2 linked regions of the Homo sapiens genome follow. The protein of the gene in region 1 purifies or fractionates together with the protein of each later gene. This does not show direct contact. Each region holds a gene or a part of one and is shown in the gene's direction. Other genes may lie near its edges.

Evidence for each region. Proteins that work in one complex are often made in the same cells at the same time.
Region 2: the proteins of RAPGEF3 (region 1) and PIK3R6 purify together in Homo sapiens (pull-down; one study listed by IntAct). This does not show direct contact.

The regions. Positions count from the first base shown.
Region 1 is NC_000012.12:47,755,231-47,760,581, reverse strand, and holds the start of RAPGEF3 (rap guanine nucleotide exchange factor 3), read left to right. Parts: upstream 1-1,701; 5' UTR 1,702-1,829; coding exon of another isoform or gene 1,830-1,860; 5' UTR 1,861-2,025; coding exon 2,026-2,031; intron 2,032-2,120; exon of another isoform or gene 2,121-2,503; coding exon 2,504-2,716; intron 2,717-4,669; coding exon of another isoform or gene 4,670-4,733; exon of another isoform or gene 4,734-4,880; intron 4,881-5,351. Other genes in the region: SLC48A1 (heme transporter HRG1), read right to left, coding at 181-366, 4,670-4,733. UniProt on the Homo sapiens protein: Guanine nucleotide exchange factor (GEF) for RAP1A and RAP2A small GTPases that is activated by binding cAMP.
Region 2 is NC_000017.11:8,832,647-8,837,455, reverse strand, and holds part of PIK3R6 (phosphoinositide 3-kinase regulatory subunit 6), read left to right. Parts: intron 1-532; coding exon 533-665; intron 666-739; exon of another isoform or gene 740-839; coding exon 840-909; intron 910-1,999; coding exon 2,000-2,183; intron 2,184-4,410; coding exon 4,411-4,567; intron 4,568-4,809. UniProt on the Homo sapiens protein: Regulatory subunit of the PI3K gamma complex. Acts as an adapter to drive activation of PIK3CG by beta-gamma G protein dimers.

The DNA.
Region 1 (5,351 bases):
CACTCCCCAGCATCTTCCACCTGCCCAGAGTAAGGGCAGCAAGAATAGGAAATAGGGGACCCCTTTGTGACCCAACTGCCAGTCTCAGGAAGCCTTCCTGCAAGAACTTCTAGGCCAGGGCACTGGCCCCAGCAACCCGAAACTCATGACTCCATCCCCCTAACTCTTCCCCATGCATACCTGTGACTCCCAACTTGTCATCCTTTCCTGTCAGTTTCCAGGTTGCTCTTCCTTCTTCCAAATTACCAGAACTCCGTTGAATGGATTTGGGTCTGAGGTCAGATTCATTCTCAGGCTTTCCTCCTTCCCCGGAGAGGCATTTAAAACTCCACCAGCGTTTCTTAATGTGTGGACACAGCAGATGACCTGGGGTGTTTGTTCCAAATACAGATTTTCCATTTCATGCCAATAGGATTGAATATGAATTGCTGGGGACGGAGCCTGCATTTTAGTAAGCTTCTGGGAAACATTTTTTATACATGTATACATTAAAAATGGGATTTTAATCACAATTAAAATTTCTCTCCCCACTTTCAAGAAAATAATAATTGGTGGAGGATGGGGGCTTGGCATCCCAAAATTGGGAGTATAGGCTTCTTAGAGCTACCTCTTCCCAGTCTTCTCCTCACTTTCAAGAAAATAATCATGGTGGAGGATGCGGGCTTGGCATCCCAAAATTGGGGTATAGGCTTTTTAGAGATACTTCTTCCCAGTCTGGGCTGGCTCAACAGCAAAGGGAAAAGGGAAGAGAAGGGGCAAAAAGTCCTAAAAAGCTGGGGGTGGGGCGTTCACCTCCTTCCAAACCCTCATTATCGTCCTGAATTACGGGTCGCTGTCCCCGGCCACTGTCTCTCCACCCTCTCAGGAGTGGGGCGAAGAGGCCCGCGCTGGGCCATTTGCACAGTGGTGGAAACTGAGGCCCAGGGAGGCGTGGAGCCTCGGTAGCAAGCCTGCCTAGCAGGGCGCTGGAATGCCCGGTCTCCGCCTCAACCTACCCGGCCACCAGGGAGCGCGCGGTAGGGGGCGTGGTACTCGAACACCTTCTGCTCCCCTGGAAGCTCTGCCACAACCCCAATCTCCTCTTAGGGCCCCTACCCGTTCTGGAGAGCAGTCCTTCCTCTCCAGCCTCAGTTTCCTCAACTGCTCCCGGTGTGTGTGTGCTGGGGCAGGGGGCAGTGGGGCGTGGGTCTGGGAACGGAACTGTGGGAGGCAAGGCAGCGGGATTCCCCGCGGGAAAGCCGCCTATTCCCTCCCCCGGGCGGCTGGAGACCCTGAACCGAAACAGGAGGCAGACACCCCCAGCCGGGAAGCGGCCCCAGCCCGGATTTCCCTCCCGGGTGAGGCCGCAGTGACTCACCCCCTCCCCGCTCTCCCCGGTTTCCTTGTTTGCATTTCTCCTCCCGGCCACGTGGCGGCCAGTGCAGCCACTCACCGCCGGATCCCTGACACCCCGGCCGTTGCGGCCTCCTCCACACACTTCGGGGCCGCTCCTGCCCCCTGGGGATACTCTGGGCTCAGGCGGATGTCCACTCTGGTACCCCCGGGTGCGGACTCCAAAGCCTGCCAGTGCCGGCCCCCTTCCCCTACGCATTCCTCTACCGTAAGGCAGGGCGCCTCCACCCCGCCCCCTCCGCCAGTCCTGGGGAGGGGAAGGGGGCGGGCAGCGCAGGGGGTGTGACAGCTCCCGCCCGGACCGGTGCCAGCGCAGCCTTGCTTCAGCGCCCGGTGCCAGCTGGCTCCTTCGTCTGAGACGAAGGCGCAGGCTCGGGGCTCCCTGTCGCCGGTGGCTGGGTGGCGTCCCCCCACCACGCCCCCACCCCTCTACTCACCCAAGAGGAGCCTCTCCACCGAGCCCTGCATCCTGCTGCCCTGGCAGCCAGTCCAGCTAGGCACTGGCCCAGTTCACTGTACCTGGACTTACCCACTGGCACCCTCCGGATCCCCTTATCAAAGCTGATGGGGGTCGCTGGGGACCCCCCAGCCTTTTGCTAGAGCCTGCACGGCTGTGCGAGCTTGAAAAGAAACATGAAGGTGGGTAAGGTGGGGTCAGGGTTGAGGAGGAGCAGGAGAGGGCGGGAGAGGAAGCTGACACGGTGGGGAGTTTGGGTGGGAGAGGGAGGGTTAGTCAGGGCTGAGGAGGAGAGGAGAAGGGTTTAAGCCGAAGCTGCATTTCTGGGAGACCTAGTGAATCTATAGCTTCATACTGGGAGGTAGTGGAGATCCCTGCAGGGGCATGGGCAGTGAGATGGGACAGAATTCCAAAGAGGACTAAGAAGGGCCTGATCTTTTCCAAGAGCCAGCTGGAGACCCCTAAGTGCGCCAGACCGGCAGGCCCCAGTGAAGGTCTTCCTGTTCCTCCCCCCAGCTCCTGGCAGGGTTGCAGCACCTCCGCCTGACCAGTCCAGAGGACTCTAAGGAAGTAGTTCTGCCTGGGGCAGTTGTACTGTGGCCCAGCCGCCCCAGTCGTGTCCCATGGCTGTCCACTTTCCTCCCCGTGTCACAGGTGGGCTGGCCAGGTGAGAGCTGCTGGCAGGTGGGCCTGGCTGTGGAGGATAGCCCAGCTCTGGGAGCACCGCGGGTGGGAGCCCTCCCTGACGTGGTGCCGGAGGGGACACTACTCAACATGGTGTTGAGAAGGATGCACCGGCCCCGAAGCTGCTCCTACCAGCTGCTGCTGGAGCACCAGCGTCCGAGCTGCATCCAGGGGCTGCGCTGGGTGAGTACCTTTCACCTGCCCAGGTGCCAGGGCCAGTACCAGAGCTAGAGGGGGGCCTAGATCATGGCTTGGCATGCTGCTGGTGGCCCAGCTTGCTCTGGGGGTGTACAGTGGTACAGCTGCCGTGGACACTGGGTCAGGAAGCTTGTCTGCAGTGTGCGTGGGTGGCTCACACAGCTGCAACGTGTGTGTGTCTGTGTGTGTGTTCTGCCCAAATGTCTCTGTTTGGGCATGGGGGGAAGGGGAAAGGGATTTGTTGTTTATCTGTCACCTCAGTGAGCCGGCATTGAGTTAGGTACTTGTGTGTTCTTTCCAGGTGGAGGTGGGAGGTATGGGGGCCGGGTCAATGGGTTGGAGTGAGGTAAGCTTGGTTACAGTTCTGGGTGCATCACCGTGGCAACATTCTCCTTTAGTGAGTTACTGAACTGTGCTAATTCTGCGTTTTGGTCTTAGGGTGAGGTGATCATGTGGACACTGCTTGGTACCTGCCTTTGGGGGGCTCAGGGAAGGATTCTGAGACATTTGGAGAATCTGAGATCACCAAAGTGCCCTTTGCTAGTGAGAAACATCTCTGGACCTGAAAGAATGAAGGAGAGAGCAGGGAGGGGAAAGAATGGTGGGATTTGGGAGGCAAGATAATGGCTGTACTATCCAAATCAGCAGAGAAGCTATCCCCAACCATCCAGACTAAATAGAGTAGCTTAGCTTGAGATTCAGTTATGTCTCCACTGCGTGTGTCCACCCAGGTTTCGCTATGTTGCCTAGGTAGGTCTTGAACTCCTAGGCCCAAGCAATCCACCTGCCTTGGCCTCCCAAAGTGCTGGTATTACAGGCGTGACCCACTGCGCTTGGCCGGGAGAGTTCATTTCTTTTTTCTTTTCTTTCTTTTTTTTTTTTTTAACCAGAGTCTTCCTCTGTCACCAGGCTGGAGTGCAGTGAAGCAATCTTGGCTCACTACAGCCTCTGCCTCCCAGGTTCAAGTGATTCTCCTGCCTCAGCTTCCTGAGTAGCTGGGGCTACAGGTGTGCGCCACCACGCCCAGCTAATTTTTGTATTTTTAGTAGAGATGGGGTTTCACCATATTGGCCAGGATGGTCTTGATCGCTTGACCTCGTGATCTGCCCACCTCGCCCTCCCAAAGCACTGGGATTACAAGCATGAGCCATTGCGCCTAGCCGAGAGTTCACTTCTTATTGGCAAGTCCTTTTGAGTGGAATAACCACCACCCTCTCCCTCCTTCCCCCTACCTTGCCCAACTGCCATTTACAGTGAGGCTGAGTTGAAAAAACTGAGACCTACCAAGATGAGGGGCTCCTCTTTGCAATCAGAATTGAGAGGAGAGTCCACATGTCAGTCCTGGTAGAGCTGTTCTCTACTAGGGTCTTCCTTATCATGAGCCTGGGTCCTCCTCCGCTACCCCTCTGGCTCTCCGGCTCTCCGCTCTCCGGGTCACTGGCTGTAGCTATTGCCTGGAGCCAGTGGGCTGGAACCCTCCCTCCCTCCTTCCCTCTTGGGCTATAATTATTTGTGCATTTCCTGTCCCCTTCCCAGCTTGTGGAAGCAAGGTAGGGGGTAGGGAGAAGGTCAGGTGCCAGGACAATAGGTCACTGGAGGATCTCCTGGGACCTGAAGTCTGGGAGGGAGTGGAGGAGGCCACCAAGCTGTCTCCTGACTCTCCACAGCCCCCAGAAATGAAGGGCTGGTGTGCAGGGGAAGGCCAGAAAGGTGGGGGTAAAGGTTGCTGGAGTGTAAATGGGGTCAAAGGCACCAAAACAAGGCCTTTCCGTGCCAGGTGGGCGTTGGTGACTAGAGGGAACTTAGATTTTTAGTGTTTAGAGGCAGGCGGCCACTCCCTCTTCTGATGACCAACTTTGGGGACTGGGGTGGGGAGGTTTCATTCCATCATGCCTATATTTGAGAGGCTCTGGGTACCTGTGAAGCTGTACTTCTTACCTCTTGATGATGCCTTTAGCCCAGGGAAGGCTTCCGTGAGGGAATGAGTGCCAGCTGTGAGCATGCACGCCCATGGTGAAGGGGTGGAGCCCGAGTCCCAGGAAGACAGCACTGCCAGTTATTGAGGCCAGACCTCCCTCTTCGAAAGCCAAGGGGAAAACCCATCAACCTCCCAGAGAAGAAGTCTGAAGACAGCTCTTTCTGTTCCTACCTAGACCAGGACAAGAGAAAATGAAAGCGGGTTACAGTAGGAGGGCTTGCAGTTAGATACAGACTAAGATAAGACTTAACAGCTATTGCAAAAGTGACACTGGAATGGGATGGAAGAACATCTTTGGAAAATAAGAGGGGGAGGTGAGATCTTGTCTGATGTCCGGGGGCAGGGGCAAGATCAGAGTGACCTGTGGTGGGTTCTACTAGCTCAGGGAAGTCTGAGATGATTCTCTTTGTGTGACTGTTCTTGGGGAAGTGGCCCTGTTTTGTAACTCCGAGAACGCACTTTCATTCAACCTATCCAAATAATAGTAGTAGTTAATAGTTATACAGTACTTATGTGCCAGACATTATTGAAAGAGGTTTGCCTTTATCATATCAAATAATTCTCACAACAGCCCTGTGAGATAGGTACTAATGTCATCATCTCCATTTTATAGATGTGAAAACAAAGCCACAGAGAGGTTAA
Region 2 (4,809 bases), on another chromosome or scaffold:
GGGAGTGGTGGTTAAGGCAGGCAGGAAGACCAAGTCTGGGGTTGCTGGAGAGTCCAGGGTCAAGATGGGGCTTAGCTCCGGCAGAGACGGAGGGCACACTGAGGTCGGGAGGGAGAGGGGGGCCTCCCGGGCACTGTGGAGCATTTCAGGCCTGTGGGATGCAAGGAGGAGCAAAGGAGACTGAGGAAGTGCCTCCATGGTTTTGAGCCTGGAGAACCGCAGGAATGTGCTTCCCTGATGGAGCAGGAGGGCTGGGAGGAAGTTGATTTGCTTGCATAACTTGATGCAATGAATTTTTATCTTGGTAAGTTGGGGCGGGGCGACAAATGGATGTCTTACAGGTGCTGGGAGAAGAGGCTGGAAGGTGTGGGTTTGGGAGAGAGCTGTGAGCCCAGGTCTGGCTGTTAGGCCTGACCTTCCACCTCTTCTCCCAAGCCCCTCCCCGGAAACTCCCCCGGGACCCTTCACCTCCCCCTCCTCCCTCTTACCTCCACCTCCTCCCTCTCACCTCCCCCTCCTCCCTCTCACCCAGGCCACAGGAATCACAGAAGAGCTCTACCAGAGAATCTATGCCTTTTGCACAAGGTTACTGACCCTGCCCACCCCCTACTGCACAGTCGCCTTGGACTGCGCGATAAGGCTGAAAACGGAGATGGCTGTCCCAGGTAAGAGTCACTGGGCATCTTTGTCTCCCACGCTGCACCTCCAACATTGCCCAGGGTCTTTCCTTTTTCTCCAGGATACCGGGGAGCTCAAAAGCCTCCACACCTTCTGTAGGAAGGTGGAGAATGGGAGTCAGAGACTTGGGGGCTGTTTGGCCAAAGTGGTCTGGTTTGCAGGGACACTGTACCAAAGGATGGTCATTGCCGAACAGAACTTGACGAATGAGCTGTATCCCTACCAGGAGAGGTGAGTGGCCCCAGAAAAATTGCTACCTTCAGCCTCCTAAAACTGTTGTGGCTTTAGTGACTGCTCCCTGGCAGGAGGACAAAAGAGGAGGCTGGATTAAGAAGAGCCCTAGCAGACCTCCCCAGCCATGATATTTGTCCAGCAGTGGGGTGCGTTTGCCATTCAAGGTTGGCGCCATATTGTTTTCTGGAGACCACTGAACACAGGATAGGTCTTTCTTCTCAGGTTGGATTGGAAGCTACCCTGCTCACATGCAGAAGGTGGACATGGCCTCGGGGCCACTCTGGGGCTCTGTCATTCCACCTCCATCCTGCCCTTGGCCATAATGCAGCATCATACCAGCCAGGCAGCCAGAGGAGACTCCAGAATAGCCATAGCGGAGGGGCTCAGGCGCAAGTGCACAATGAAGCCAGAGGGCTTCCATGGGGGACGCCAAGCCTCTTAGATAAGACTGAGGAAGTGTCCCCTGCTCGTGTTGGGGAGAGGGGTGATGAAGTTGGGAGCGGCACCTCCCTCTTCTGCAGGCACCTCCACTAACTTGGCCCTGAAAGGCACAGCTTGAGTTTGGGGTGTGAGGTGCTGAGTTCATGAAAGATGCAAGGAGGCCCAGGGCACCCATGGGAGAGGTGGGGAGACACAGTGGGTGAGGAGGAGGGAGTAGGGGAGGTTGGCTCTCTGGTGTGATAAGAGTGATGAAAGAAGGTGAGATTCACTCAGAGTTCAGAACTCCAGTTCTGGCAGGAAGGATTTAGGGTCCCTCCTAGAGGGTGACCTGGTCCCTGGGCCAGGATGCTGAGAGAGGGAGCAGGATTGAGGCTGGAACTTTCCTAAACATGGGACTAGGCCTGCTTTCCTCTGTGGACAGTGGATTAGAGCTGCCCCTCTAGAAGGGCTGTGCATGCTCTTATTTGCCACAGTCCTCACCACTCCCTATTGTCATCCCACCCAGAGACTTTTGAATCTGAGACTCCTCTTTTTAGCAGAATTAAATTACTTGGAGGTGCTGCACAGCTCTGAGGGTGCCCATCCGGTGGCCCCTCTCCCATTAGTTACTATCAATCCCACCTCTCCCCTCTGCTTCTGCCCTCAGAGTGTTCCTCTTCGTGGATCCTGAGCTGGTGTCTGCGTCTGTGTGCAGTGCTCTGCTACTGGAGATCGAGGCGGCCCAGGCGCAGCAGACACCAGAGACCTGCATGCGCCACGTGGTCTCCCACGCCCTGCAGGCGGCTCTGGGGGAGGCCTGTCACGCAGGCGCTCTGCACAGGAAGCTGCAGGTAATGGCCCTGCCTGCAGCCCCTTGTCAGTCCCAGCCCTCGTCCCTGCATGCCCATACCAGTCATTCACCCTGCTCTTCCTCCTTCTCCTGTTTCGCATCACCTTTTCCCCCAAATCAAAAATTAATACATTTTGGCTGGGCGCAGTGGCTCACACCTATAACCCCAGCACTTTGGGAGGCTGAGGCGGGTGTATCACCTGAGGTCAGGAGTTCAAGACCAGCCTGGCCAACATGGCGAAATCCAGTCTCTACTAAAGATACAAAAACTAACTGGCCGTGGTGGCGGGCACCTGTAATCCTAGCTACTCTGGAGGCTGAGGCAGGAGAATAGCTTGAACCCGGAAAGTGGAGGTTGCAGTGAGCCAAGATTGTGCCACTGCACTCCAGCCTGGGTGACAGAGAGAGACTCCATTTCCAAAAAAAAAACCAATAATAAGATATAAGATAATGCCAGTATTCCTAGCAGCAGGGTGAATGAGTGTCTCAGCCCCGAAAGCAGGAATCTGGGTCACCACAACAGTAGCTACTACATCATCTCACTCGGAGTCAAAGCCAAAGTGATTGCAATGACCTATAAGAGCCTGGTGTGGTGGTTCATGCCTATAATTGCAGGTACTTGAGAGGCCGAGGCAGGAGGATTGCTTAAGGCCAGGGGTTTGAGACCAGCCTGGGCAACATAGCAAGACCCCATTTCTACAAAAAGTAATAAAAAAAAAAAAATACCAGACGCAGTGACATGTGTTTGCAGTCCCAGCTACTCGGAAGACAAGAGGATCACTTGAGCCAAGTTCAAGGCTGCAGTGAGCTGTGACTGTACCACTGCACTCTAGCCTGGGTAACAGAGAGACACCCCATCTCTAAAAATAAAAATACAAGAACCTCATCTTGAGGGCCTTGACCTGTTCCCATCTCTCTTCATTTCCTCTCTGGCCTGTCTCCTAACTTTCCCTCTCATTTCCTCTGCTCCAGCTAAACAAGCCTCCTCATTTGTCTCCCAACATGCACATGCCTAACATACTTGCACCCCAGGGCCTTTGCGCTGGCTACTCCCTATGCTTGGAACGTTCTCTTAGATACCTGCACGACTCACTCTTTTTTTTTTTTTTTTTTTTTTGAGACGAAGTCTTGCTCTGTTGCCCAGGCTGGAGTGCAGTGGCGTGATCTCGGCTCACTGCAAGCTCCGCCTCCTGGGTTCACGCCATTCTCCTGCCTCAGCCTCTCTGAGTAGCTGGGACTACAGGCGCCGGCCACCACACCCAGCTAATTTTTTCTATTTTTAGTAGAGACGGGGTTTCACCGTGGTCTCCATCTCCTGACCTCGTGATCCACCTACCCCGGCCTTCCAAAGTGCTGAGATTACAAGCGTGAGCCACCGCGCTGGGCTGCATGGCTCACTCTTTCACTTCAAGTCTTTACCTAAAAGTCACTTTCGGCCAAGCGCGGTGGTTCACGCCTGTAATCCCAACACTTTGGGAGGCCAAGGCAGGCAGATCATGAGGTCAGGAGATCGAGACCGTCCTGGCCAACATGGTGAAACCCCGTCTCTACTAAAAATACAAAAATTGGCTGGATGTGGTGGTGCGCACCTGTAGTCCCAGATACTCGGGAGGCTGAGGCAGGAGAATCGCTTGAACCCAGGAGGCAGAGGTTGCAATGAGCCAAAGTCACACCACTGCACTCCAGCCTGGGTGACAGAGCAAGACTCCGTCTCAAAAAAAAAAAAAAAAAAGTCACTTTCTCAGGGGGGGCTTCCCAGATCACACAATCTCTTTTGTTTGCTGCTGTATCCCAGCCCCTAGAACAACACCTGGTGCAGTGAGCTATTCTAAGTGCTGGAGATGCAGCTATGAATGAAACAGACAAAATTCCCTGTGAATTCCTGGAATTCACAATCTAGTGGGGGCTAGAACATTGATCCAAGTGCTGGGTGACGCTTTCAGGAAGTGGGCGTCAGTGGCTATCTCTGCCTCTCTGGGTAACAGACATTGCAGACCAGTAGTCTCCCCATAATAGCGTGTGAGGGGCAGAGGGGAACCCCCACTTGCAGGGCAGGCATAGGGCCCTGGATGTGGGATCCAGAAGCCTTCGGGGGAAGCTCCTGCCGGGCCCCCAGGGGCAGCGGAGAGGTGTCACCTTGGGCTGCCAGGGCCCTGCGGACTTGGCTTAGGAGCTGGGGTGCGTGGGCGCTGGGCCAAGACCCAGGCTCTGACGCCCCTCCCCAACAGGCCAGCCCTCGCCGCACCCTGGAGCACTATTTCCACGCCGTGGTGGCCGCCTTGGAGCAGATGGCCAGCGAGGCCAGCCCGAGCCGGGAGGGACACGTAGAGAGGCTGGAGGAGATTTACTGCTCGCTGCTGGGTCCCGCGGCGGGGCGCTGCGGTGGTAAGCGACTGGCAGATGGGGGGCCTTGGCAAGAGTCCCGCGGGGGCAGCTCACTGCACAGCAGGGGGCGCCAGAGAGCAGCGCTGGACCTGCCTCTGTCTGGGTGCCTGGCCGACTCCCAGGAGCCTGGGGACTGGGGGCAGCCTGGGGGTTTGGCAGGACCGGGACTAAGAGGCGGGTAATTAGGCTGGGAGCGGTGGCTCACGCCTGTTAACCCAGCATTTTGGGAGGCCGAGGCAGGC